Regions from separate parts of the Homo sapiens genome. Here all the other regions are reported to be linked to region 2. The links are microRNA targets in miRTarBase. Many come from high-throughput screens and were not tested one by one. Region 2 holds a microRNA gene; each other region holds the end of a gene's coding sequence.

Region 1 (10,952 bases), not on the chromosome of region 2:
TATATACCCAGAAGACATATTGCTGGATCATATGGTACTTTTTTTTTTTAATAGGATTTGCTATACTGTTCACAGCATCTGCCACATTTTACCTTCTCACCAACGGTGCATGAGGGGCTCAATTTCCCCACATCCTCGCCAACTCTTGTGACCATCTTCTTCATGGTAGTCACCCTCATGGGTGTGAGATGTTACTGCAATGTCTTGGCTCTGTCCCCCAGGCTGGAGTGGGGTGATACAATCATAGCTCACAGCAGCCTTGACCTCCTGGGCTCAAGCAATCCTCCTGCCTCAGCCTCCTGAGTAGCTGGGACTTCAAGCGGGTCCCACCACACTCAGCTAATTTTTAATTTTTTGTAGAAACAAAGTCTCCCTATGTTGCCCAGGCTGGTTTCAAACTTCTGGGCTCCAGTGATCCTCCTGCCTCAGCCTCCCAAATAGCTGGGATTACAGGTGTGAGCTGCCCTGCCCAGCCTCCATGTGGTTTTTGTTGTTGTTTTTTTTTTTTTTTTTTTTTTAGACGGAGTCTTGCTCTGTTGCCCAGGCTGGAGTGCAGTGGCACGATCTCGGCTCACTGCAAGCTCCACCTCCTGGGTTCACGCCATTCTCCTGCCTCAGCCTCCTGAGTAGCTGGGACTACAGGCGCCCGCCACCATGCCCGGCTAATTTTTTTGTATTTTTAGTAGAGACGTGGTTTCACCGTGTTTGCCAGGATGGTCTCGATCTCCTGAACTCGTGATCCGCCCGCCTTGGCCTCCCAAAGTGCTGGGATTAGAGGCGTGAGCCGCCGTGCCCAGCCTCCATGTGGTTTTGATTTGCATTTCACTAATGATGGGTGATGCTGGGAATCCTTTCTCCTGCTCGTTTTCCATCTGTGTATCTTCTTTGAGACATCTATTCAAATCCTTTGCCCGTTTTTAAATGCTTTGGGTTTGTTGTTTAGCTGTAGTTCCTTAAATATTCTGGACATTACCCCCTTATCAGACGTATGACTTGCAAATATTTCTTCCCATTCTCTAGGTTCCCTTTTCATTGTTATGTCCTTCAATGCTGTTTTTTAAATGACAATCAACTTACCTTTTTTTTTTTTTTTTTTTTTTTGAGATGGAGTCCTGCTCTGTCACTCAGGCTGGAGTGCAGTGGCGTGATCTCGGCTCACTGTAACCTCCGCCTCCCAGGTTCAAGCGATTCTCGTGCCTCAGCCTCCCAAGTAGCTGAGACTATAGGCACGTGCCACCACGCCTGGCTAATTTTTGTATTTTTAGTAGAGACAGGTTTTGCCATGTTGGCCAGGCTGGTCTCAAACTCCTGACCTCAAGTGATCCGCTCGCCTCGGCTTCCCAAAGTGCTGGGATTACAGGCGTGAGTCACCACGCTCGGCCCAACTTAGCTATTTTTCCTTTCGTTGTCTGTGCTTTTGGTTGCGTATCTAAGAAATCATTGCCAAATCATGAATGTCATGAAGCTTTCCCCGTTTACTTCTAAGAGTTTTATAGATTTAGGTCTTGTGTTTAGGTCTTTAATCCATTTTCAGTTAATTTTTCTGTCTGGTGAAAGGTAAGGGACCAACATCACTCTTTCGCATGTGAATTTCACTTTCCCAGTGCCATGTGCTGAAAAGATAATCTCCCAATTTGAAGGCCAGCTGATTAGAAACATTAATTCCATCTGCTACCTAATTCTCCTTGGCCATGCGGGGTAACATCATCACAGGTTCTGGGGATTAGGATCTAGACATCTTTGGGAGGCCAGGATTCTGCCCACCAGAGGGAGATTGGGCCTGCAGGGACTCACGTGCATCTCATTCACACAACCTACTCAGGAGAACACAACTGACCTTTGAACAAGGGTGTGAACTGTGAGCGTCCACTTATACGCATATTTTTTCAATCAAACATATAAAAAATACAGTATTCGGGCTGGGCATAGTGGTTTATACTTGTAATCCCAGCACTTCCGGAGGCTGAGGCAGGAGGATGGCTTGAGGCCAGGAGTTCAAGACCAGCCTGGGTAACATAGTGAGATGCCGTCTCTACAAAGACCTAAAAAAAAAAAATTAGCCAGGCATGGCAGGTGTGCACCTGTGGTCCCAGCTACTCAGAAGGCTGAGGTAGGAAATTGCTTGAGTGAGGGAGGTGGAAGCTGCTGTGAGCTATGATGGTGTCACTCCACTGCACTCCAGCCTGAGTGACAGGGACCCTGTCTCAAAAACAACAAACAATATAGTATTCACAGAATGCAAAGCCTGCACACACAAGGCCAACTTTTCATAGATGTGGGTTCTGCAGGGGACTGGGGGACTTGAGTATGTGCAGATTTGGGTACAGGAGGGAGGTCCTGGGCCCAATCCCCTGCAGGTACCGAGGGACAGCTCTATTCCTAGGTAATAGCAGGAGGTGTAATTCACAGAAAATATGAACAAACATTAAATCCAGAGATAGCTAAGTTGGGCCGAGCTGACAGCTCACAAATGACAACGGAGCTGTCTCAAATGGTTTTTAATCGAAGAAGCACTATTATAACAATGACAGTAGGTAGGAAAAAAAAGCACCTTATCACACAACATAGAATTCTTTGACTATGTTGCTGTCTGTGTGCATTTTCACAATCATCATCAAAAGCAGAGCTCGTCTTCCCATGGGAGGTCAAACAGGTCAGAAGAAATAATCAGAGGGAAAATGGGAGAAAAGAAACAACAGAATTCAAAACACAGGACTGAGGGGCCGGGTGCGGTGACTCACACCTGTAATTCCAGCACTTTGGGAGGCTGAGGCAGGTAGATCACTTGAGGCCAGGAGTTCAAGACCAGCCTGGCCAACACAGTGAAACCCCATCTTAACTAAAAATACAAAAATTAGCCAGGCATGATGGCAGGTGCCTGTAATCCCAGCTACTCAGGAGGCTGAGGCAGGAGAATTGCTTGAACTTGGGAGGCGGAGGCTTCAGTGACCTCAGATTGTGCCACTGCACTCCAGCCTGGGCAACAGAGTGAGACTCCGTCTCAAACCCCAAAACCAAAAAACATGGGACTGAGATGAGAAAAGGGGAGAATCCTCATGTTTCAGGCAAAACAAGTAAAAATTATTAAAATCTATTGTTACCTTTTGTTGTTCAGATATCTTCAGTGTGTTCCATCAGACTGTGGAGGTGTATCCTGGCAATACATCTCAAATTCAAGCAGGTAAATGGATCTAGCAGGCATCTGACTAGAAAGAGGGGTTAATTCTTTTATCCTCACTTTCAGATGAAGAAATTGGAGCTGAAGGTCAGCAAGGCAGGTATCAAAAACCGTGCCCACTCCACGCAGGCCCTGGCGTGGAGGGACGCAACAGGGAGAGCTTTCCTCTGAGAGGCCCCTGGCCAGGCCCGAGCCGTGTTCTCAGATCTCCTTGTTCTCCTTTCAGAACTTCCTCTTCTCCTTGGTTAGAATTAAACACAGTGGTGGGGGCCGGGCGCGGTGGCTTCGCGCCTGTAATCCCAGCACTTTGTAAGGCTGAGGCAGGCTGATCACCTGAGGTCAGGAGTTTGAGACCAGCCTGGCCAACATGGCGAAACTGTCTCTACTAAAAATACAAAAATTAGCCAGGCGTGGTGGTGCACACCTGTAGTCCCAGCTACTCGGGAGGCTGAGGCAGAACTGCTTGAACCTGGCAGGTGGAGGTTGCAGTGAGCTGAGATTGTGCCATTGCACTCCAGCCTGGGCAACAGAGCAAGACTCTGTCTCAAAAAGAATAAATTGATTAAAAAAATAAAAATCAGCACAGTGGTGGAATCAGATTTATTGTGTCAGCTTCCCCAGTGCTGAGCCATCTCTCTTACTCAACATCTCCCCTCCAAGGCCCAGCACACAGTATGTGCACAGTTAATACCATGTCAGCCACTCTGAACATCTTGGGTTGAAGAAGCATTCGCCAGCATATCTTCCAGGAGCAAAGTAAGCATTTTCACCCCGACAAAGCACTCTCCATGCTGTGCCCACATCTGAGCGCCCAGAGTGGCCAGCAGTGGCTCCAGTGGCTCTTGGAGGTGCCTGTGTGCCGACGGCTCCCTATGTGCCACAAAATCGTTTTCCATGTCTGGGCACCAAGAGAGAAAAGCACGTCCATGTCCTGCCCTCCCTCCTCCAGCAGGCTGAGAGCAAGCTGCTCCCAGGCAAGCATGCCCCTAGGCTGTTCTTCAGGCCAGAGGGGACTTGGGGAGTGAATCCAACTTTGAGACAGAAGGCACGGTGAGCTGACATTAAAACGACCACATCTACGCTGGGCACGGTGGCTCATCCCTGTAATCCCAGCACTTCGGGGGGCCGAGGCAGGTAGATCACTTGAGGTCAGAAGTTCTAGACCAGCCTGGGCAACATGGTGAAACCACGTCCCTACTAAAAATACAAAAAGTAGCCAGGTGTGGTGGCATGCACCTGTAGTCCCAGCTACTTGGGAGGCTGAGGTGGGAGGATTGCTTGAGCCCTGGGTGCACAGGTTGCAGGAGCGGAGATCACGCCACTGTACTCCAGCCTGGGCGAAAGAGCAAGACCCTTTCTCAAGAAACAGAAACAAAAAACCCCAACCACATCTAAAAAGAAAGCGGCTAAGATTCAGGTGGTTGGCTCCAGGCACTCAAGCTGCCAGGCCACGCTTGGCCACCAATAGAACAGAAACACAGACCCACTCAAGATGTGTCCCGCTCCTGTTGAGCCCCTGCCATGCTCATCCGCAGGCGGCACAGGCACACACCGACTGGGCAGACAGTGGGCCAGCGGGGGCCCTTTCTGCATGGCCCCCTCCCTTCGTCACACCCTGTCCTCCAGCCCCCTGACCCCGTCTGCCCACCCTGGCTGGGACTTTCCCCTGGTTCACAAGCCTTCATGCCTCATTTCTTCAGGACTCAGCTCCCTGCAGGTGGCTGCAATCTCACCCAGCAGACAGGCCCTGTGTGGGACGGGGCTCGCCGTTAGGGCTGCAACCCTGTGATGCAGAACCCACAGCAGCCCGGTTGTGGCAGGAGGGCGGGGGCACTCTCACGTTAGGCTCCTGTGGGCAGAGCTGGCAGAGGCACTGTTTCCTAAGCCAGAGGCAGGTGTGGGACAGCCCAAGGGAGGAGGCAGTGCTCCGTCACCACCCAGGTTGGAAGGGGTAGCAGGCATGTCGTGTAGCCGAAAGCTCCCTGGGAGCACCTGATGGGCAGAAGTGTGAGCCGGAACCCAGCTCCCCAGCACCCCCGGCTCCCGAGGGCACACCTGCTCCCTCAGTGCCACTGTTCCCCTTAGCCTTTAACTTCTGGTGCCCCTGAGCAAAACGAGACTGGGAGCAAAATCCCCCTCAGGATTTGAGAACTGTAATTCAGAAATGACTTTTAAGCACAGAGTGTTTTATTTTGCTTGGAACCTTTGTGCAAAAAACTGAATCATCTGCCAGAGTAAACACATTTCAGTTCATAAGCAGCACCTTTGAATGAACACTGAAAAGGGAACGTACGGTTCGGTCTAAAGCCAGAACAGAACGCGTGAGACGCACTGGACGGCAGGAGAGCCTCCGCCAGCCCAGGTCCGGGGCGCAGGACACCGAGAGTGTCGACGCAGCTTCCACTGCAGAACGGAGTGACCACAGACCAAAGCAAATCACGCAAGTGGATCAAAAAATGTTTATTCTGAATTCTTTAATTTAAAAAAATCATACCTATGAGGTGTGCTACAGGAATTCAGATACAATAAGTTGCATATAAAACCCGACCTCATTGCTCATTGTGGTAAAGCAAGGATGATGAGAAAATGCACCTCAGGAGCAAAAACACGCTTCACGGGCACTCCGGGACCCAAGTCCCGAGACATTTCCACGTGACCTTCTGGAAAGACACACCGCCCACCTGACTGCACGACGGGACTGGTCCAGCCTCCCGGCTCCTCAGGAAGGAGATGAGTTTCCTACAAAGTGAGTGGCCACAAATGCCAGGACAGCGGTGTCCTGGAGCTGTGGGGGGACCTTGGGGAAGAACACACACTCATCTGCACTTCACACTTCTAGCCTTCAACTGATCAAACTACTGAAATTGAACATGATATTTTGGCAAAAATACTACACCCCCATTGACAGGAGGAGGGTTCCTGGCGGCTCACAGCAGAGCAGGCACTGCCTTCCTTCCCAAGGCCGAGAGGCCATGCTGTGACATGGCACACACACCGCCCCAGGCTGCCCGGTGGCCCAGGGACCATATGGGTGACAGTTAAGACATCAGCCTTTGTGAAAAGCCAAGCCCGACGCAGACCTCAACTGCACTGTGCGTCCCAATCCAGAGACCCGCGGGGCAGGGGAGGATTTCAAGGACTCAGTGACACTGCCCGGCGGGGACAGGAGAGGCTCCCAGCAGCCCTCCCGGTGACCTGGGCATCAGGGGATGGGTAGAGATGAGGACAAGCCGGAGTGGGCACAGGAAAAAAACCAGGGTCTCTGCTAGAAGTCACCTGATCCTGCGGGCTGTCACGGTATGACATAGGCAGATTTCCCATCTGACATGGCAGCTCCTGTGCTCTGGGTGACTTAGCTCCGGGTTAACTTCCATCAGGCCCAGTCCTCTCCTCCCCAGCAGTGAGACTCTAGAGGAAGCCCCTCGTCTGGGACAGTCCTTCCTGCCTACCCGCCACAGGGCCGACCTGAGGCCTCGTGCTTGTCCTGGGAGGTCCCGACTGCACTTGATGGGCACGAGGGCAACACGAACACAAGAGAATGCGAGCTCCCTGAAGCTGCCGCGTGACAGTCAATTTGGCAAAAAAGAAAAAAAAAACCATCAATGCATAAAACCAATTACCAAAGTCCTCCTAAGGAATGTGATTACAATATATTAGCAAATTCTGTGGCATAAACATTTTCAAAAGCATCAGCAAAAGTATTAAATATAAAAGCAATGTGTATATTCCCCTCCCCACCTTCAAAAAAAAAAAAAAAAAAAAAAAAACAGAAAAAACCCAAAACCACCCAAGAACCAAAGAAGGCCTGATCTGTAGTGTGAGGATCCAGGGCGCAGCTCCGGGGGGGGGCTGGGGGCCCTACTGCCGCAGCTCCACATAGTTGGCTGGGAAGAGCCCGTACCGGCCCTTGCACACCCCGCGCCACCAGCCGTCGTCAATCATCTCGATGTTGGTGATGATGTCATCAGGGTCAAATGAGATCTCATCATCGCCCGCTGGGGAAGAGAACACAGAGAAAGATGCTGAAGTGCAAGCGTTTCCTGGTCTGCCAGAAAAAAAGCACAACCCAGAGCAAGCTCCCAGGCAGCCTGCTCAGAGATGCCCCCTGCAGAGATGCGGACCACCGCGGAGGCTCCTGCTGCCTCTCCCATGCCACCAAGGCCAGGATTTGTGAACATGAACCGAGAGAGTACAAAGAGGCACAGAGCCCTTCACACAAGCACCAACCCCACCCGGACCCCTTCCTCAGGAGCAGGTTTCCACCACATAACTCCAGCCCCGCCTGCCCTCCCTTCCCCTCTCTCTGGCAGACGTGTCTGTGGAGGGGGTGGGGAGATGGGCTGCGGAGGCCGCAGTGGAAGGACAGCCAGGGGACACCCGGAGAGAAGCCCGAGGTGATGGCTGAAATGGGAATGGAGGGCAAAAGCCACGGTGATGAGAATCCACGCACAGGTGCCGAGATGCCACAGACACACCCACATGCGTGTACGCAAATGCACGTGTGCAAAAGGCACTGAACGGGGACGGCCAGCGCTCACTTATGGTAGAATGCCAGCTTCCGCGCTGATGGAAAGTTGCAAACGGGAAGCACTCAAGAGGCAGAGGCCGGGGGTTCTGAGGGGAATCCCACGCCACCCGTAAGATGCTTGTCAACTGCAGAGGGGTGGTGGTGACTTTGTGGACCAGGTGGTGGCTGAGACAGAGGGACAAGTGGATGCTATGCGGCCCAGCAGAGAGCCCCACCGCATGGTCTCCAAGACCTCACCGCCACCAGAGCACAGCTCAGCCTGGCCCTGAGGGAACACGGGGCGGGCGGCTGAGGCCAGCCCAGGAGCTGAGGCTGCTCTTAAACTGCCAAGGCCGCAAAGGGAACTCAGGGGAACGTGCAGGCCACACGGGAGCTGGCGGCCGGGGCAGGACAGGCAGGAATGGGGTCTCGAACATCAAGGCATCTGTGCGGCCCCCTCACCTGGAGGGTGGGGTGTCCCTGTGGGACAGCATCTTTGATCTTGGGAAACACGCTGGAGTCTTTGGGGGTGGCAGCACCCCTGCAGCTCTCCAAGGGTTCAGAGAATACTAAAGATAACAGGGGGTGTGTGCGTGTGTGTGCAGAGATGGAATCCGGGTAGGGAACATGGGAGTTCTTGGCACTATACCTGCAACTTTTCTATATCTCTGAAATTATCTCAACATAAATTACTTCTAAAACTAACAACGCTAGAGAAGTGAATTCTCAGAAAACAAGCAGAGGCAGGCGCAGCTGCCTGGGTCTCCCCTCCAAGTGCTTTTGCAGGCCGCTCACCAGCCTGGTAGTCGTACAGGGCGACGGCTGTGATCCCCAGATCGTTCTCGTACTCATCGTAGGTGCTGTCCTCTAAAAGAAAGCCATGACAGAGCTGAACAATACAAAGTCCCACACAGGTTCCCAGCCTTCTCAAGTTTTAGACGACACTTCCTAAGATTTTGTCTCAAGGACACAGGGCGGCAGCTGAAACCCTCCCTTCCTCTGCCCCTGCCCACCCGTCCCCAGCACAATGGGGATCTTCCTGGGACCCAGCACAGGAGCCGATGCCCCAAATGTGCCTAGAGCACTTCCCTCCAGGGACAAGAAGACCCTATAGCAAGCAAGCAAAGGCGTGTCAGTGGGAAACCCACGCTCCTCGCAACGACGCCACAGGTCGAGCAGGATGTCCCGGGAGCTCCCTGCCCTGGGCAGGGCGCTGCAGCGTGGGGCCCCAGTACCTGCGGGATAGTGGCCCGGGGCCTCTGCGCTTTCATAGACAGCCTCTGTGGCATAGGCCAGGCCCTGCTGGCTGCTGGCCTCTCGGTAGTCAGCGGCCTCCATGCTGTACACGGGCTCCGGCTCCGTCCCACTCACAGGGCCTCTGTAGCTCAGCTCTGCCTTGAAGGAAGCCGCATCCTGGGGAAGGGTCACACGCACATGGCACGGGGCCCATGCTGGCTTCTAGAGAGCAGTAGCTGTACTGCCACAGCCAGCAGAAACCCACGGGCCATCTAATTCTCAGTCCCAGCCAGGACTGAGAAAACAGACGCGGTATAGGAAGGCCAGGCCTGCCGGTGTGTTCACCATGGTGGTGAGTGCCCACATGCCATTTCCTTCCCGATGATGACCCGGTCCTCACCACCGACACTCCAGTCCTGCAATAACCACGCCCACACAGCAGGTTAGGAGACACGCCCCTGCCCACACTGTTGCCTGGGGGTAGAGCCTGTCTTTGTTGGGTTAATTTGGCTGATTTCTTTTTTTAGGCCTCATCTCCAAGGCCACACAAGGCACCCTTGGGCCGAGCGGCCACCCTCCTGCCTGTGCTGCTCGACCCTGGCCCTGCCTGACAGCGGCTTCACCACGTGGCTCCAGAGCAGCTGAGCCTACAGACAGGGCATCGCCAAAGAATCACATTCAACTACAAAGGTGCGCAGTGGAACACCTCTCTATCTATAACCACTGCCGCTTCGGAGCCCCAGCGAAAATTCTGAACTGCTTATCACCGACAGTGGCTTTAATCAATGTTTCTGACCAGGGTCCACCTGATGTCACCGGCAGTGACTGAAAGAAAGCAATGCCGACAGCTCAGAACCGCGCACCCAGGAGATCTGGGAAGAGCCAGTGGTGGAGAGCTGCTAGCCAGGGAGAGTAATCGGGCAGGGAGAGCGACTCCACCCTCAGCACAGGCACCAGGAACCACACAAGGGCTGAACTGCACGGGAGGGGCAGGGTCGGAGCTTCCTTGAGGCAGATGGCGCTGGCTGCCAAGGGGAGGGACTAGAGGGGGAGGCCGGTTCCTGACAAGCTGCAAGGCCTCACTTACCACATCCCCCCAGGGCCCGGCAGGGTAAAGGCAGCAGGCAGCAGCGTAGCCAAGGAGGGACAGTCGGGTGGTGACAAGGCCACGGCCATCGAGGCCCAGATCCCAGACCCGGCCTGTCTCCAGGGCTCTCTCTGGGCTCCTGAACTACCATGGTCTGGAGTGTGACCCCTGTAACTGACTGGCTCCTGGGCGAGCAGAGATGAATGCATAGACCAGGATGATGGCCATGGGATGGAGAAAGGGCAAGGGCTGGGGACAGGAGAGGTGGTTACAGGTAGAGGGTGTGGTTAGCGCAGAGGTGCTGGCGGGGAGCAGGAGACCCAAAGTCAGGGATGGGCGGGGCATCGGCAGGCGGCTCCGTAACTCAGGGATGGGGACGGAACACTGGGGGACCCATGAGAGGGGGTCAGCAGCACAGGGAGGGGCCGGACAGCATGTCTGCAGCCACACTCATGAGGGGCTGCAAGGCTGGAGAGCTGAATGGGGCAGGCATAGAAGGCAGATTGTGCGGGAGGCAGGGGCTCAGTGATGAAGGAGGGCAGCACTGCCATTAGGGAGTGAGGCGGCGTCCTGCACAGCAGAGAGCAAGTGGGGTGAAGACACCCCCATCTGATTATCTGATAGCAGGTGACTACAGCAGGGACTGCAGTGACAGTGGCCAGACTACAACAGGCTGCAGAGGGGTGAAAGGATGGCATGTGGGCCTGCACAGCTATCCCCTGACAGCACTGAGGCATGTCACCCACCCCCCAGGCGCTCCTGGCCCACCCCTCTCCGGGCGTGGAATGCAGCGATGCCCTCTACACCCACGCCACACTGCCTGCCTGCAAGGGCTTCCTCCACTCCACAAACAGGACCTGGGCTCTGGCAGTAAGTCACTCACGCTCATTCAAACACCAAAGACACCAACCTCATAGACGGGGCTCGAGGGCAGCCTCTCCTCG
Region 2 (10,952 bases):
CTCTTCTGCAAGCCTCAAAAACACAAGGCAATACAGCTCTGATGGAGGCAAATTTTACAGCAGAAGAACCTGAGTGCCAAAGGCTGCGGGAACAAAAAATACCAGAGCAAGAATTAACAGCATGAGAAAGCATGCGGCCAGCAGATGGCGACAGAGGCCTTTGTGAGCCACTGGCTGCCGGGTTCTCAAGTGCTGGAAGGTGGCTCTTCACAGCTATTGTATAAGTGATTTATGTATTTGGATTCTGCTCAATGTTATATATGCATTACTGAATAAAACATTCACAGTATATCTTCCACCAGCAGCTGAGCTCCAATTCTAAGCTTCTGAGGTCTAATTCCCAAGGCTCAAAGAAGCCCCTGACATCAAATTGCTTTCCTCCCTGAATAGCTGCTTCATACTCCAGAAAAAGAAATGCTTAGAGAGGTGAGAGCGATCTGATCTGATGTGACCACATAGTCAGAATGCTCACCAGCTCTGTGAGGAAGAGCAAACGTCTGTCAGGTGGTTTCCTCAAGGCCAACTTGTGCAGGGCTTCCCCAGGCTCCGGCTGCTGTTCCCCGACTTCCTCCTGGCGGCTGTGCCTTGCTCAGCTACCTGCACTGAGATACAGGCAAGTCTTGGGTGAGGGCTAGCCTCAGTTTGGACAAGAAAAAGAAGTGGCTTACGTGTAAGAAATATGTCAGGTGAGGCCGGGTGCGGTGGCTGAAGCCTGTAATTCCAGCACTTTGGGAGGCTGAGGCGGGCAGATCACAAGCTCAGGAGATCGAGACCATCCTGGCTAACATGGTGAATCCCCGTCTCTACTAAAAACACAAAAAATTAGCCGGGCATGGCGGTGGGCGCCCGCAGTCCCAGCTACTTGGGAGGCTGAGGCAGGAGAATGGCGTGAACCTGGGAGGTGAGCCGAGATCACGCCACTGCACTCCAGCCTGGGCGACACAGCGAGACTCCGTCTCAAAAAAAAAAAAAAAAAAAAAAAAAAAAAAAGAAATACGTCAGGTGAATTTTCCAAACCGGGTATTTAATCAGTTAGCTACCCATGGCCCCAGGAGCTGGGAAATCACTTTGTTCCTGCCTGGGAGCAGGAGCTGCATGTGTCTGGGAGCTGCAGTGCGGCGCTCACTCCCGGGCTGCCCGGCCTTCCCTGCAAACCTCCGTAATCCCTTCCCGCAGGTGTTTCTGCGAGGCCACGCTGGGTGACCTCTGAGGTCTCCTTTAGGTCTGTGCTGAGACGCTTTGACGCGACATGGGAAGCAGGCGCAGGCCACAGAGTTTCTAGCAATGAGCCCAAAGTGAGAGTCAGTGTGATGGGGTGGCTCCCGGAGAAGGACACACTCTTCCCTGGGAACATATTTGAGAGGTAAAAGGGCAGGCCCCATCTCCAGGCCTGGCGCTGGAAGAGAATTCCACAGAAAGCAGAGAACAACGGGCACATCCCTGTGGAAAACACCAACCTGGCATTTCACACACACAATCCATGTGTTGGCATTCCGTCTTTAGTCACTGACAGGTCATATGAGTTGGAATCTGAGGCAAGCTTCTCCTGCCCCTTTCTCCCATTTGCTCCCCACACCTGGTTTCTCATTTAGAACAAAGGAGAGAAAGTGCAGTTTCGGTGAGTGGAGGAGCCGGCAGCATCTCCAGGCATTTCCATGTGGGGGGCACGCGCCTGTGTAAGTGCCTTATCGCCCTCACGCTGCAAACAGTGCTGCGAAGTCGGCACCAGTATTGTTCTCATTTTGCAGGAGAGGAAACTGAGGTTCATAAAGATTAATAAAACATGTGCTTAATTTCCCTTGGTGACTCCGGAGTCAACGCTCTTCATCACTATGACGGCGAGGGCGAGGCTGCGGAATTTCTCTGCCACACCTAAGGCCCTCTACCCACCAAGTAATAAAAAAGCTTCATCAGAAGGGAAAGCAATAGGACCCCAGCCTTATGAGGAAAAAACATCACAGCAGAGAAGGCTGCCAGGGAGGAGAAAAGAAAAATCATTTCCTATTTTCGATCCTCATGCCTATTAATATGAAATGGTAGAAAACATCAGAAAGGTCACCAATATGTCTTTAATATACGCCCACTTCACGTGGTCTTATTTACACCCACGGCTTCACCACCAATGCTCTAGTAATATTGACTGCTAGAGGTGGGCTCCTAACTCAAGCCCGCAAACCAGCATATTCAGCCTTTAAATCCCCTCTAGAGTTCCTGCATTCCATTCCATTCCACTCCATTCCCCTTGGCTCTCTCTTCCCTCAGCCGTCAAATGATCTCTTGCTTGGATTAGGTTTCTGCCTGGACACTATGCCTCTACGATCAACTCTGCAATTAATTTTTCTCATGATTGCAATTCCTCTAGCATATATATACATTCAATGAGATCGCTTCATTGCTCCAAATATTCGAATGCCACCTCATGGCACATGGTGCTTCTGGCACTGGATTCAGACCTGCCTGCCTCAGCACGGGCTGTGTCTCATCCACCACACATCACAAGCCTGTGAGTTCAGGGGCAGTTTAGTAGCATGTTTCCCGTATTCAGTCCTAGCAAATGAATTCCTGAGAACTAAATGAATCGTGCAAGGTGCTGAGGGGTCCCTTATTGATGCCCTGTCCCTAAGGAGACTAGACTTGACTCAGAGTAAAGAATGGGCCTGTGCCAGGTCTGTGCTTCCATCTTGCTCGCATGTTATCTTCTGAGGGGGTATTGTTACCTTCATTTTTTTTATTGGTGAAAAAACAGAAATGCCGAGAAGTTAGATAGTATTATACTTTTGTGCAGTCCATAGAGCTGGAAAAGGGAGAGCCAGGATTTATACCCCCAGGCAGGACCTGGAATGCTTGTGAAACGCAGGCCCCACTCAGTGGCCCACTCCACAGCTACCCTCCTTCCTTCTCAACACAGCCCCAATTTCCCCCTGAAGCGGGCCTCTTCCCAGCACAGCCCCCAGGCATCAATCTTGCTTGACGTTAGGCAGTTGTGGTGGGGCCCAGCTACCTGTCCAGTGAACAGCTTAGGAATAATTGCATACCACAACTCTGGCCAAAGTGGCTAGAGGAGGGGGTTCCTGGGCCTTCTGCAAAAGGGTTCTTTCCTCTCAAAAGAAGACAAGACTCAGGGGCTTTTCTATTTTTACTGTTGGACACTGCTAAGCTGGAGCCAGGAGGCCGGTCTGTGGGCAGACACACTGTTACATGAAATAATTCCAATACATTCTCACATCAGGGATTTAGAGGGAAAGTGAGAGACCATCAAAGATGGCCATTTTAGGTCAATTTACAGAAAAGCAGAAGAGCATGTGAGAGCTCAGCACTGAGATGGATGGAATGATTTCCCCATCATCTATCCCCCAGAGGCAGGGGCTTTTCCTAGTTGGCAGTCAAACCCCAGTGGCCTGCTGGAAGCCATTGGTACCAGGCCATTGGTATTACTTGAGTAGAACTGGGATTTATGTTTTCATGATGATCCTAATTGGGTCACAGGTAAGCTTTGCTGTGATGTTTGTGTTTGAGTCCACAAAAAAATTTTACAGTAATTTAAACCTGTATTTATGTTTGATACGAGCTCATTTTGTTACCTTAACAAAACAAGGGTGTGCTGGGATTTTGTTTTCTTTAAGCAGTTTAATGACTCCAGGAAGTAAACGTGTGTAGTTATGGTCTAGCTAAAGTCACTGATGTCATATTTTAACCTGGATTTTGGGTTAAATAATGGATAACGTACCTAATTAGGCTACCAGTAAACAATCACTGCAGGATTTCACCTAAAATGCCAGTGACCAGAAGTAGATGGTGTCCTCTTTCTCTGAAAACTGGGGATCAATGTGAGGTTACAGTTGAAACTATGGGTTATCAATGTCCACAGAATATACTGGCCCTAGGTAAGTAGAAAAAGTCCTTGAATTTGCTTAACCAAACTTTACATATGCTCATGTGACTACCTGTTTTATACATGGATTCCTTTTCATCTTTGAAGGAAGACAGGAAACAGGGATACTAAAATTCACATTCAGAAAATATTTCCATGTAGAGACGTCCATCTCCCCTCGGTTCTCTCCCTACTGCCTAAACATGCTTTGTTAGCAGGCCAAGTCAGACGTGGTCCACGGCAGGGTGAATTAGGCCCTTCTGTCTCATCGCTCCTTCCTTTTTAATATTCCCGAGGAAGTAACAGTATGGTACTTATTAAGCCAAATTTTCCTGGAAGCTCCAGGTCTCATTGATAGCCACGCTGATGAGAGATTACTGTCCGACTTTCCTTTTGTAAATTAGTGGGCAACTGGTTCTCTCCACATGGAGCGGGAAAACAATCTCTGTCTTCTTTCAGTTCCAGAACACACCAAGCTCGTTAGCACTCCCCAGGCCACCTGCCCTCCCCCACTCTCCCTTCACGTCACCTTACTCATCACCAGGTCCCAGATGAAAGAGCTCTTGCTCACAGAAGACATCCGTGACTGGTGTCCCGGCCACCCTCCCAGCCCGCCCTTTTGAACAGCACGTCTTACAGCTGGTTGTGTTTTACTCACCCGCATGCTCGTTTGTTGAACATTGGCTCCCAGACCGTTTGAGGCACTGAGGAGAGGATGACGCAGACTTGGTCCCCACCCTCAGCAGTGGGTACCGAGTCTCCATCATCCACTACCCAGTGCCTCAATATTCACTGAAACGTAAAAGCAGGAAGGAGAAGCAAAGACCTTTATGAGCCTCAAGGCTATGTGACACCCACAGATCAGCAGGGTATGCAGGACTTCCCGTGCTGTGTGGGGAGAGTTAGAATTCTGAATCGTAATCCTGAGCTGGGCTGAGGGGGCAGAGTTAGAACTCTGTATCGTAATCCTGAGCTGGGCTGGGTATACGCCTTGAACAAGTCATGGTGCCTTCTAAATAGTCTCAAGTGCAAAACATGGATGAGAAAATGAGAAAAGTTATAGAAAGTATTTTTTAATGAAAGAATTCATATTAGGTGACAGGTAATGACCTTTACACACACACACCTCTCTCTCTCTCTCTCTCTCTGCTTATAGTGACTGAGAAATCAGCTCTCCCATAACTTTACCAACAATAATTCTTGAAGATGAGAGCCTCTTGTCTGAAATCATTTTCCATTTATAGTTATATGAAAGATATAATGGAATAACTGCTAATTAAATCTATAAATATACATATAAAAATTACCTTGTCATTTGTAGCGCGCTTCCAAGTATAAAATTAAACGTGGTTCTGAATTTTTCCCCTAGAACTCTAAGTTTTCATTTCTTAATCGTCTAGAATAGCTCCTTTAATAAAATTTCATTTTTGACATGATGCTTGCTTGATATTTTAAAACTGTACTTTAAACCTGAAATTTCACATTAATTATTATATTTTTAGGATTGGAAAATGACACCATCTTTCAGATAAATGATTGGATGAGTAATATTTAGCCAATTTCGCTTTCTGTTGCAGGTACAGTTCTGAGTGTTCATTAATATTCAATGAAATTTCCATCAGTATGTATGATATTTTCAGGTTTTCAAAAATAAGTGAAATAGGCACTAATGTGGTGATAACACTAAAATGAGGGCCTGAAAGAAGCCCCGACACGTGGGAAAAGCCTGCTAACAAAGACGCACTGCAACAGAAAGACCTCACAGGAGAGGCCCTTCAACCCAGGATCGGTATTTTATGGCATCAGCTCATTAATTCCTCCAGGTCCCCAGGACACAGATATCAAGGATGGTGTCAGGCTCATTATCTCAGACACTGAAACTGAGGCTAGGGAGATTTTCAGTGGTTAACCAAGGTCAGATAGCATGTCGTAAAGCTGGGATTCAAACCTCTTTACATGTCTGCTTTCAAAGTCGTAGCTCAAACCACTGATCCTTATTGCTTCTCCAGAGAGATATTCTCCAAAATACTCTAGAATTAGGGGAAGCATTAATCTGAAAATCTTGGTATGTCTTCTGGGGGTGGGGGTGGGAAGAGGAACCCTGAAGTCCCTGACTACTGTGGAGATGAGGATATCAGAGGGCTTCTTATAAAGTTCTCATTGGAATAATAAAACTATGAGGTAATAGAAAATCTGGACCAAATTATATATACATTATTTAGATACGTAAACATCAGATACACAATTCCACTTAAAAGCATGCCTGTCCACACATGGACACACATATGCACAACAGGCAGGTGCAAGCCATTCCCAGAACATGTCGTCTTACTAGTTCATCATGGTACTACGTTTGTTACACCTCTGAATGATTTCCTACGAGCAAAACATCCATCACTTTAAAATAATGTTAAGACACTCTAGGATAAATGTAACAAAGGGCAAACGTCAAATGTTAAATCTTTATGCACAGAAGCAGATGAACACAGCAGCATGCCTCTGGCATCCCCAAGTCCTCGCTGACATTCAGACAGCCACCCTTGTTTCAGGCTACAGTAAAGCAGGGTATTAAGAGGCAGTAATGCACCGCAGCCCATCTGTCCCATAAAAGCTCAATACGTAAGCTTTGTAGAAGGCAGGTGATCAGTAACAGTGGTGAACCAGGTGTACATTATTTTAATCAACTACATTCTGGACCTTTATTCTCAAAGTTTCTAATGGCAAACGAATAAACAGAGAAACCAACCATATCTGCCCTCCTTGCAATTTTTTCTTCTTTTGGATTCTGATTTTCCCCTATTGTTGCACCTCCTTTCCTTCTCTGTTTAACCAAGGCTGGGGACCTTAGGCCATCAGACCTGGGTTCAAGTCCCAGCTTGGCCATGTATTAGTTCTGTGACCATGGATACCCTGGTTTCAGGTACTTTCTATGCAAATGGGATATAATAATGACACCTCATAGGGAGGTGAGGTCTGAGGTATGCAAAATCCTGAGCACAGTGCCTAGTACACAGTAGGCCCTCACTAATTGTTAGCTATTAACATAATTATTCTTTCTTTGTGGTCTCTCCTTTGGCCACCTTGAAAAGCATCTGAGATAGCAAATGTGCACATGTTCTGTGAGCAGCAGAGTGTCATGCATTTACTAATTCTCAATCGAGCCTCCAGCTCTCCCCTGCAAGCGTGTAACCGCTGCATGCTCAGGCTCTGACTACTATCTTGAGTTGTAGAACTACAGCTGAACCAATCTCTTGCAGCTTAGAGTCACTAAAATCAGAGTCCTCAATGTGTTTCTAAGGTTGGCTCCTGTTCCTGAGTTTGAGTTTGCTATTTCTGATGACACAGCCTTTATGAGAATGGTATAGCATTCTCTTCCATGTCTTCTTTTCTCCCTTCCTGACTTTTAATCTTCAATTCAAGCCCCTATCAGCTTATTTAATCAGTGTCTACACTAGTACTCTCATGGCATGGCTAGAAGTGACCTTTACTTATTTAACCTCTTACTCCAAATCTTCAGGGGCTCCAAAATGCCTTTTGTTTGTTTTGAATTTTTTTTTTTTTTTTTTGCAACGGAGTCTTGCTCTGTCACTAGGCTGGATTGCAGTGGCACGATCTTGGCTCACTGCAACCTCCGCCTCCTGGGTTCAAGGGATCCTCCTGCCTCAGCCTCCTGAGTAGCTGGGACTACAGATGCGTGCCACCATGCCCAGCTAATTTTTTGTATTTTTAGTAGAGACGGGTTTTCACCATGTTGGCCAGGATGGTCTCTATCTGTTGACCTCGTGATCTGCCTGCCTCAGCCTCCCACAGTGCTGGGATTACAGGCATGAGCCACCGCACCCGGCCTCCAAAATGCCTTTTAAATAATTTCTGAAGTCTCTGCCTGGCCCATCTCCCTTTCACTGGGTTTGCCCCGACTCCTTCACAGTTGTTGCCTCCAGGAAATCCTCTCCCCAGTCACACGTGCCAATTCCACCCACTTCTCGGTCCTTGAGCAAACGGCTCCTCTACCAGAAAATGCTTATCCTGCCCTCGGTGGCATATGCTATCTCCTGTATCAATTCGCCAAGCATTTTATCAGGAGGCAGCATGTTCTAATGGAGAAGGGATGGGCTTTCAAAGCAGAAAGGCTTGTTCTGAAATCCTGGCTCAATTTACTAGCTGCATGACTAGGGGCAGATTATTTATTCTCTGAATGTTTGATTCCTTATCTATAAAGTGGGATAATAAAATCCACCTCACCGGATTACTGTCATAATTAAATTAAAAGTCCATAAATTATCAAATAGAGTCTTTAGGGCACAGAGGGAGGCTTAACAAATAGAAGATAAGTTTTTCCTTGTTCTTTTCTACCAGTATTTTTCCCATTTTGCTTTCTGGGAGAATCCTGTGTGCCCCCATTTTGTCTCCCTGGCTGGATGACAGGCTCCAGGAAAGCAGGATCTTTGTGGGATTCACTGCTGCAATTGCTCACAGCATCTAGCAAGCTCCCAGACATGGGTGATTCACGCATATTTGATGAATGAATAAAAGAATGATACCATATTCTTGTCAATATGTATCACTGGAACCACTAAGTATGGGAACTGGAAAGGACCTTAGAGAAAAATCACTGACCCAACTTCATTCTATAGATGAGGAGCAACATGACGCTGAGAAGCTAAGCAGCTTGCCCATGGTTAGCACGCCAGTGAGAGCGGCAGACTCAGCTCTGTGTTTCTCCTGCCCTGCCAAGCTGCTTCCCTGATCAGCTGCAGGCAAGTATGTGATGCCAAAAGCATTTCCTAGGAAAGCGGCAACTAAGCGACAACTATGTCACTCGGGGAAACACCCACAAACAATGAATGACACACATGTACTACCTCCAGTGCCGGCATGACGTACTAGATTAAATAGGGGGCGAGAGCTGGCTTTTAATAATCTGCCATCCTTCTAATATTTTTTTAAAAACTATACCCCATCGTATCTTCTTTGGTGAAAATGTCCAGTCAGAAGGCATGGCTGGTGGAGGCAAACGGAGAAGTGAGGCAGCCCCAGCTGCGTGTCTGTCTCCGGCCTGGCTGTTCCCCTCTGTTGTACACGCTTCCTCCCTCAGCCCCATTACAAAGGTCTGCTTTACTCAGTGCCTGAGCTGATGCCTAGCTACTCTCATAATCAGCTAAGCTAATGTGCTCATGGAACTGTTTCCAGGGGATGGGACTGCGTGTTTCTGGGGAAAGCCTTCCTCTTGGGCCTCCTCTGTTGTTGGCTGGTAGGAATTCCAGGCTAGGTCACGGGGCAAATGGAAACACGCAGCAGACGGCAACTCTTTACCCACTGCCCTGTGCTGACAAACTTGCTGCCAGATGAGAAAGGCATAAGGGTGGCTTATTTAATGACAGGATTTAGAATTTTATTTATGTGACAACTAGTACTATATCCTTAGTAGCATACTTAAGGCCGCTGGGCTTGCAGGTTCCTTAAATGAAGGCAGTACGTACCTAATTCTGCCTCTGTGTCCCAGGACTGTCACAATACACTAGGCTGTTGGTTTTGTTTCTGTTGAACCATTGGTAATCTTATTATTATTTTTTTTGTGTGAGAGAGGGTCTCGTTCTGTCGTTCAGGCTGGAGTGCAGTCGTGTGATCTCAGCTCTGCCTCGCCTCCTGGGTTCCAGCAATTCTCCTGCCTCAGCCTCCTGAGTAGCTGGGATTACAGGTGTGCACCAACACGCCTGGCTAATTTTTATATTTTAGGAGAGATGGTGTTTTGCCATGGTGGCCAGGTTGCTGTCAAACTCCTGACCTCAAGTGACCCGCCCACCTCAGCCTCCAAAAGTGCTGGGATTACAAGTGTGAACCACCACACCTGGCGCCCTTGCTAATCTTAAACAAAACTAAGACACCAGGTCATAACACAGCAAGTCTCTTGTGCCTGCCCAGCTGGGCAGAGAGAAGCTGGACATCTGGAAACTAACTTGATGAAGTGCTGCTGTTCGGTGTGACCGGGGGCAACTCACAGAACCTTCCAGAGCCTCAGTTTCCTCTTTTGTGAAAGAGGCAATCACCAGTACCTCCTGACGAGTAAAGCCATGTGAAATACACACGGACACTCTTGGAAAACCTGTGGTTTTCAACAGTGATGCTCAACAAAATCACCTCTGTAAGTCTTCAAAAATACATCCTGATGTGTAGTCAGAACTGGCAACCACTGTTGTACGGTGCTCGACACATAAAGTAATCACTGATATATTGAGGGCTGTTCATGAACACTCAAATGAAATGACCATATATGCTGTGAATACAGACAGATACAATGAAAGACTCTAATAATTTTAAAACAGCAAACAGAGAGCCCGTCCCTTAGAAGTTGAACATCCCAGATAAAAATGCTAAATTGCAGCAATAAACCCTGAAACGCCCTAAACAGGGATATATGGAATGCTCTGATTGTAAATTGCTGGCTCTTCCCTACATCTAGTAAAGAAAATTACCTGCTAAATGTTATCATAAAAGCTACGGAAACATTTTTTTACCTAAGTTATAGAGTCAACCAAGAAAAAAACCCTATAAATTAGATATTCTAAATCTTTAAGCCACTAATTTTAATCAATATCAGTCTGGAGGTTTTAAATGACTTTCTCCTGAAACTCCCCACCCCATCAAGTAATTATCAGAAACATTGATTTCATTCCATATATTCAATCTTACAAGTTCATAAAATATTAGCCTATTAAGTTAACATAAAAATGTAATGCAGTAGAATGAAACAGTAGAAGGAACTCCATATAACACCTGCAAACTGTGTCTATAGGAGTCTGATTTTTAATATTTCACTGACCACCCCTATTCCCCCATCTCCAGCTCCCAAGCCCCAGGGTGGGTGAGAAAGGAGGTTGCAAAGGGCATCACGTGCTGGACAGAGAGTGGCATGCAGTATCTACGATCACACAGGACACAGATGGAAACATCAGAAGACAACCCAACACCTCATACAGATTAAAAAGAAAGGCGGATTCGGCCGGGCGCGGTGGCTCAAGCCTGTAATCCCAGGACTTTGGGAGGCCAAGGTGGGCAGATCATGAGGTCAGGAGATCGAGAC
Region 3 (5,604 bases), not on the chromosome of region 2:
CCTTATAGGGGTGTCACAACGTTCCAGTGGGATAACGAGGCCCTTAGGGCATCACTCAATATCTAACACCCATTCTGCACAGAGGGCAGTTTTCTGACCCCATTTTCCAGAGGAAGGAATGGAAGCTCAGAGTGGGTAAGTAACTTGCCCAAGGTCACACAGTTCAGTGGTGGCGAAAACACCAATCCCCAGACTTCAGAGCCAGGCATCCTTTCCTCTATTTCATGGAGGATCTATGGAAGCAAAATACATCTGAAACATTCCAGTCTTCTTGAATTTCATTTATTGGGTGAAGTAAACAAGGTGTTTGTAAAAGATCTATGCAGTGACAGCCCCATCAGGCCTCAGCCATGTTAATGTGACCGCCTCCACCTTTCTGAGTCAAAGAGGGATAGTGGTTTAGCTTTCAGCTGGTGTCCTGACACCATGGTGATCCTGCCTTCCGATCTTTCTTCCCCAGTTGCTGCAGATGTTCTACCGGCAACAGGAGGAGATCCGAAGGCTCCGGGAGCTGTTGACCCAGCGAGAGGTCCAGGCCAAACAGTTGGAACTGGAGATCAAAAACTTGCGGATGGGCTCAGAGCAGCTCTGAGCAGAGACCTCTGCCCTCCTCACCCTCAGGGACACCACTCGGCTCCATGGGGAGGTTTAGAACCAAACCACAAGTCCCCTCAAGGACAACCACTATTTCTATATTTTTTACCAGAAAACAAAACTCTCCATCGCTGAAAGAGATTCCAGTGGGACATGGTGCCGTTTTTCTGTTTGCCTTCTTGCAACAACAGTTTCTGAATTGACTTTGTTTTCAGATGATGCCTTCTGTTGAATTCTGTTATTAAGGGCCCATGATGAGCTGTAACTTCTCAAGAGGAAAGAACACAGTAGAAAACTAGAGCTGGAAGGATCTAGGTTGACCTGTCTGTGATTTTCAAACTGTGGTCCAGAGAATAGGGGAAGACTGGGCCAGACGCAGTGGCTCATGCCTGTAATCCCAGCACTCTGGGAGGCTGAGGTGGGCGGATTGCTTGAGGTCGGGAGTTTGAAACCAGTCTCACCAGGCGCAGTGGCTCACGCCTGTAATTCCAGCATGTTGGGAGGCCGAGGCTGGTGGATCACGAGGTCAGCAGTTCGAGACCAGCCTGACCAACATGGTGAAACCCCATCTCTACTAAAAATACAAAAAAATTAGCTGGGCGTGGTGGCAGGCGCCTGTAATTCCAGCGACTTGGGAGGCTGAGGCAGGAGAATTGCTTGAAACCGGAAGGCGGGGGTTGCAGTGAGCTGAGATTGTGCCACTGCACTCTAACCTGGGCAATAAGAGCAAAAGTCTGTCTCAAAAAAAAAAAAAAAAGAAAGAAACCAGCCTGGCCAACATGGTGAAACCCCGTCTCTACTAAAAATACAAAAATTAGGCAGGGCGTGGTGGTTCACGCCTATAATCCCAGAACTTTGGGAGGCCAAGCTGGGCGGATCTTCTGAGGTCAGGAGTTCAAGACCAGCCTGGCCAACATGGTGAAACCCCGTCTCCACTAAAAATAAAAAATTAACCAGGCATGGTGGTGCATGCCTGTAATCCCAGCTATTTGGGAGGCTGAGGCAGGAGAATCGCTTGAGCCTGGGAGGCGGAGGTTGCAGTGAACCAAGATCATGCCACTTCACTCCAGCCTGGGTGACAGAGTGAGACTCCGTCTCAAAAAAAAAAAGTTGGCCAGCCGTGGTGGTGAGCGTCTGTAGTCCCTGCTATTCGGGAGGCTGAGATAGGAGAATTGCTTGAACCTGGGAGGTGGAGGTTGCTATGAGCCACGATTGCGGACTGCACTGCAGCCTGGGTGACAGAGCGAGACTCCATCTCCAAAAAAAAAAAAAAAAAGAGAGAGAGAATAGGGGAAGACTAAGCAGGAAGGCTGTGTCTCCCTTCCCCACACTGTATTCCAACCAGACAGCTCCCTTCTATTTTATATGTTGGGCTAGTATGAAAAACAATTCTGCTAGGAAAAAAAAATTTTTTTAGAAGTTTGAAAGCTAGTGATTTGACCCAAGTTCCTCATTTTACAGCTGGGGAAACTAAGGCCTAGAGAGAGGCAAGTGATATTTGTTTCATGGCAGGGCTGGGCTGAGATCCTGCTTTTCTGGGTCTGTCTTTTTGCTCTTTTGGGTCTGATGCAGTTCTCAGCCCAAAGAGTAGAAATCTGTTGCTTCTGGCCTCAGCTGTGCCCCAGCTTACTCAGTGACCTCTTGCAAGTCCTGCCCTCTCTGGTCTCAGTTTCTTCATCTGAACCAGGGGTACCCTGGAACAAGCTGCTCTCTGCAGGATCTGCCACCTGAAACCTTGACCTAAGAGAAAACTACCTGTGGGGTGATCTGGGTTTGCTACAGAAACTAACGGACACTGGCAAGGGGTCAGAGGCATTCAACCCAATTCTACAACACAGGCAGGTGGTCAAAACCAACCTTTCCAACCAGAATCAGCCTGATATGGATAGATGCTGTCCCTTATGGAGGGACGCAGACTTCAGAACTGTGCCCATGACTGCTGACTGCCACCACCAAGGCCCTCAGGTACACAGCCTGCCTCCTGCAGGATGATGTGGGCAGATTTCAGCCCTAGTTAACAGAAGAGTCCCCCAGGAGGTAGGGGGCCCCCATCACTGGAGACATGCCAGCAGAGCCTCTGGCCACCTAACCAGGAGGTCTTCTGAAATGACTATACGAGGTAAAGAAGTAGTACCAGATGGTCCCAAAGTTCCCTTTTAGCCTGAAAGCTTTTCTTTGTCCCTCCTTAGTGAATCTGTGTTCCGAGCCCTACTCTAAAGTTCAGTGGTCAATACAATAGTCCACCAAGAGACTGGGAATGATTAGAAGTGAAATTGGTCCCTCCTTACCAAGGAGGGGCAGATGATCTCCATTGCACAGGGCGATTAGATTCTGGAGCTGAGGTGGGGACTGCAGGAGGCCACCTAGTCTGGTAGGTTTCAACCCAAGCTGTGTACATTAGAATTCCCTTGGGAGCGTGCAGGAAATACAGATGCCCATGCCACATTCCAGACCAACTGAAGCTGAATCTCCAGAGTAGGGCCTGTATGGTCATATAAGCTCCACAGGTGATCTGCAGTACAGTGAAGATGGAAGACTGCATGTGTACCTATTTGCAATAAAGATGAAGAGGACAGCAAGCTCCAGACAGGAGCTGGGACTCAACCCAGATCTCTTAAGTCCTGCCTGGTGGCTCCTTAAAAGTCCAGAAGTGTTGCCCCAAGCCCTCCCTCAACATCTCTGGGAACCGCAGCTGCAGCACGATGGGGGTTCAGTGCCCCTGTTTGCCCCTTACCCAGCTGTGGTTTATTCTGCTTGTATGTCTGCACAGGCCGGATGCTCGTGTTCCTTGTCTTATTCTCCATTTACTCAGTCACTGGGGCTCACTCCCGTCTGATGCACTAGCCAAGATTGCCTTAGTGTGCTCCAGAAAAGAAGGCCAAATCCCAGGCATTGTCAGGGCAGCAGAGCTCTACAGGATAGGCTTACCTTTCCCACCTGTGTGGCTAGCACTTCACAGTTTACAAATTCCTCCCACCTCCACTCAGTGACACATGCTGTTCTAACACAGGTCAGGCAGGCATTACAGTCCCCATGTTCAGAATCAAAGACCTAGCCTCAGAGAAGTGAAGAAACATCATGCCAAGGTCATTGACTGCCAAGCGGTAGAGGTGGGGTTGCATCCAGAGAGCTTCCCGGTATGCCTCTGCACAATGCCATTCCTTGGCCAGCTCCCTCCACCCCAAGGGACCCAGACTGCACACTTAACAAACAGGACACAGGTGTCTTTGAACAAACTTTTTTGTATTATTATTTTTACATCTAGAATAAATTATTTAAATTATTTCACAGCAAGGGAGAGGGATAGGTAATTTTTATCAGATATTTTTTTAAACCATCTGTTTTTTAAATTACATTTTTGTTTATGTTCTTGAGCTGATGTAGTGGAACTTGCCTAGCACATTCAGGTCCCAGCCAGTTGGCAGAGCATGCTCTCATCTCCTTATTCCATACCCTGGGCGTCCCCTTTCTGTTGACTCAGGAACTTTCTGAGAATGAGGACAGCACTAGGAGATGAGCTTTGGCAGGTATCCACCTTAACGCTACAATAATTGTGCTTCCTGAAACAAAACTTGAGATTGTATCATAGAAGGAAACAGGAAGTCAGAAATCAAATCTATGCTTTTAATTGAAACCGTGCCTGAAACAGTTTGAATGATTGTTTTAATGTTGTTTCTGAAATTCCTTGTACCTTTGTGAAAAATAATGATAATAAATAAAAGTGAAAATAAATAGATGTGGAATATGCAATGGAAATAATGTAACAAAATAATAAACATCTGGCCATTTTACTACAAGGAGCTTTCCTTTTCTTGATTTGTTCCACAAATACCAATTAACTATCTACTCTTGGAGTCAGACACCAAGCTGGAAAACAGGCAGAACAGACAGTCTTTGCCCTCTCCAGTTTTCAGTCATGGCTGCGGGAATGGGGAGGGCCAGGATAGGGAAAGCATAGGCTGTTCTGGAAGGAGAAGGAGGGAAGGCTTCCTGGAGGAAAAGATAGTAAGGTAGAAACCTGCAGAGTAAGTTGGAATACTCAGGGCAAAGGGCATTTGGGAAGAAGAATGTTCCAAGCAGGGTAAACTGCACGTCCCCCAGTCTTGAAAAAGCACAGGGTGGAGCATAGGCAGGGCGGAGACCAAGGATCTTAAGAAAGAGCTGAGGGCTTTATAAGTGGAAGTCTAGACTTGAGCCTGGGGGGGCAACTGGAATTTGGGGTGGTGGTGTGTGTGTGAAAGTTGTCAGTACCAAAACAGAGTCACTTACATCAAAACCAAACTAAATGGTGCTCCTGTAGTCCCAGCTACTCCAGAGATGAGGTGGGAAGATCACTTGAGCCCAGGAGTTAGAGGCTGCAGTGAGCTATGATCGCACTATTGCACTCCAGCCTGGGCAACAGAGCGAGATCCTGTCTCAAACAAACTAAATGGTGCTGGGAGGCCATGAAGTGGGGGGCCCTCATCAACGATTTGCCTGGTAACAGGAACTATTATTGCAAAAGATTCCACCAAACTGCAACCTTGCACAAAGAACCACAACCTTGCACAAAAGCCATGATATGAGGACATCTGCCCAGCAACTGCCTGTTCAACTTTTGGACTGAAGCCACCTGTATTAATTCTTGTAACCAAGTATTATTATTTTAAAACGATCTGGCCGGGCGCGGTGGATCACGCCTGTAATCCCAGCACTTTGGGAGGCCGAGGCGGGCAGATCACGGGGTCAGGAGATCGAGACCATCCTGGCTAAAACAGTGAAACCCCTTTTCTACTAAAAATACAAAAAATTAGCCGGGCGTGGTGGCGGGCGCCTGTAGTTCCAGCTACTCGGGAGGCTGAAGCAGGAGAATGGCGTGAACCCGGGAGGCGGAGCTTGCAGTGAGCAGAGATGGCGCCACTGCACTCCAGCCTGGGCGACAGACCGAGACTCCGTCTCCAAAAAAAAAAAAAAAAAAAAAAAACAAAAACAAACAAACAAACAAAAAAAACAGTATATGCAATCCTCCTC

Evidence for each region. Region 2 holds the annotated microRNA hsa-miR-3691-3p (ACCAAGUCUGCGUCAUCCUCUC, at 4,581-4,602, opposite strand). A microRNA usually pairs through its seed, bases 2 to 8, with sites in the 3' UTR of a target mRNA and lowers its output. Matches are read on the target gene's strand: a 7mer-m8 pairs with bases 2 to 8, a 7mer-A1 pairs with bases 2 to 7 and ends in A, and an 8mer does both.
Region 1: miRTarBase lists CTTN as a target of hsa-miR-3691-3p. Seed matches in the 3' UTR shown: 7mer-m8 at 5,809-5,815.
Region 3: miRTarBase lists CORO2A as a target of hsa-miR-3691-3p. Seed matches in the 3' UTR shown: 7mer-m8 at 1,223-1,229.

What each region holds. Positions count from the first base shown.
Region 1 is chr11:70,431,247-70,442,198 of GRCh38, reverse strand. It overlaps CTTN (cortactin), which reads right to left. Exons shown (of 18, transcript NM_005231.4): 15 at 10,919-10,952; 16 at 8,921-9,098; 17 at 8,481-8,552; 18 at 5,624-7,173. The coding sequence ends at 7,037. Among named protein-coding and RNA genes, the nearest start is that of CTTN, 38 kb to the right of the region's middle.
Region 2 is chr6:5,143,666-5,154,617 of GRCh38, forward strand. It overlaps MIR3691 (microRNA 3691), which reads right to left and starts at 4,657; the gene lies at 4,568-4,657. The region is part of intron 2 of LYRM4 (LYR motif containing 4); the gene reads right to left. All of the region lies in intron 3 of LYRM4-AS1 (LYRM4 antisense RNA 1), which reads left to right.
Region 3 is chr9:98,119,762-98,125,365 of GRCh38, reverse strand. It overlaps CORO2A (coronin 2A), which reads left to right. Exons shown (of 12, transcript NM_052820.4): 12 at 461-4,391. The coding sequence ends at 592. Among named protein-coding and RNA genes, the nearest start is that of TRIM14, 3.3 kb to the right of the region's middle.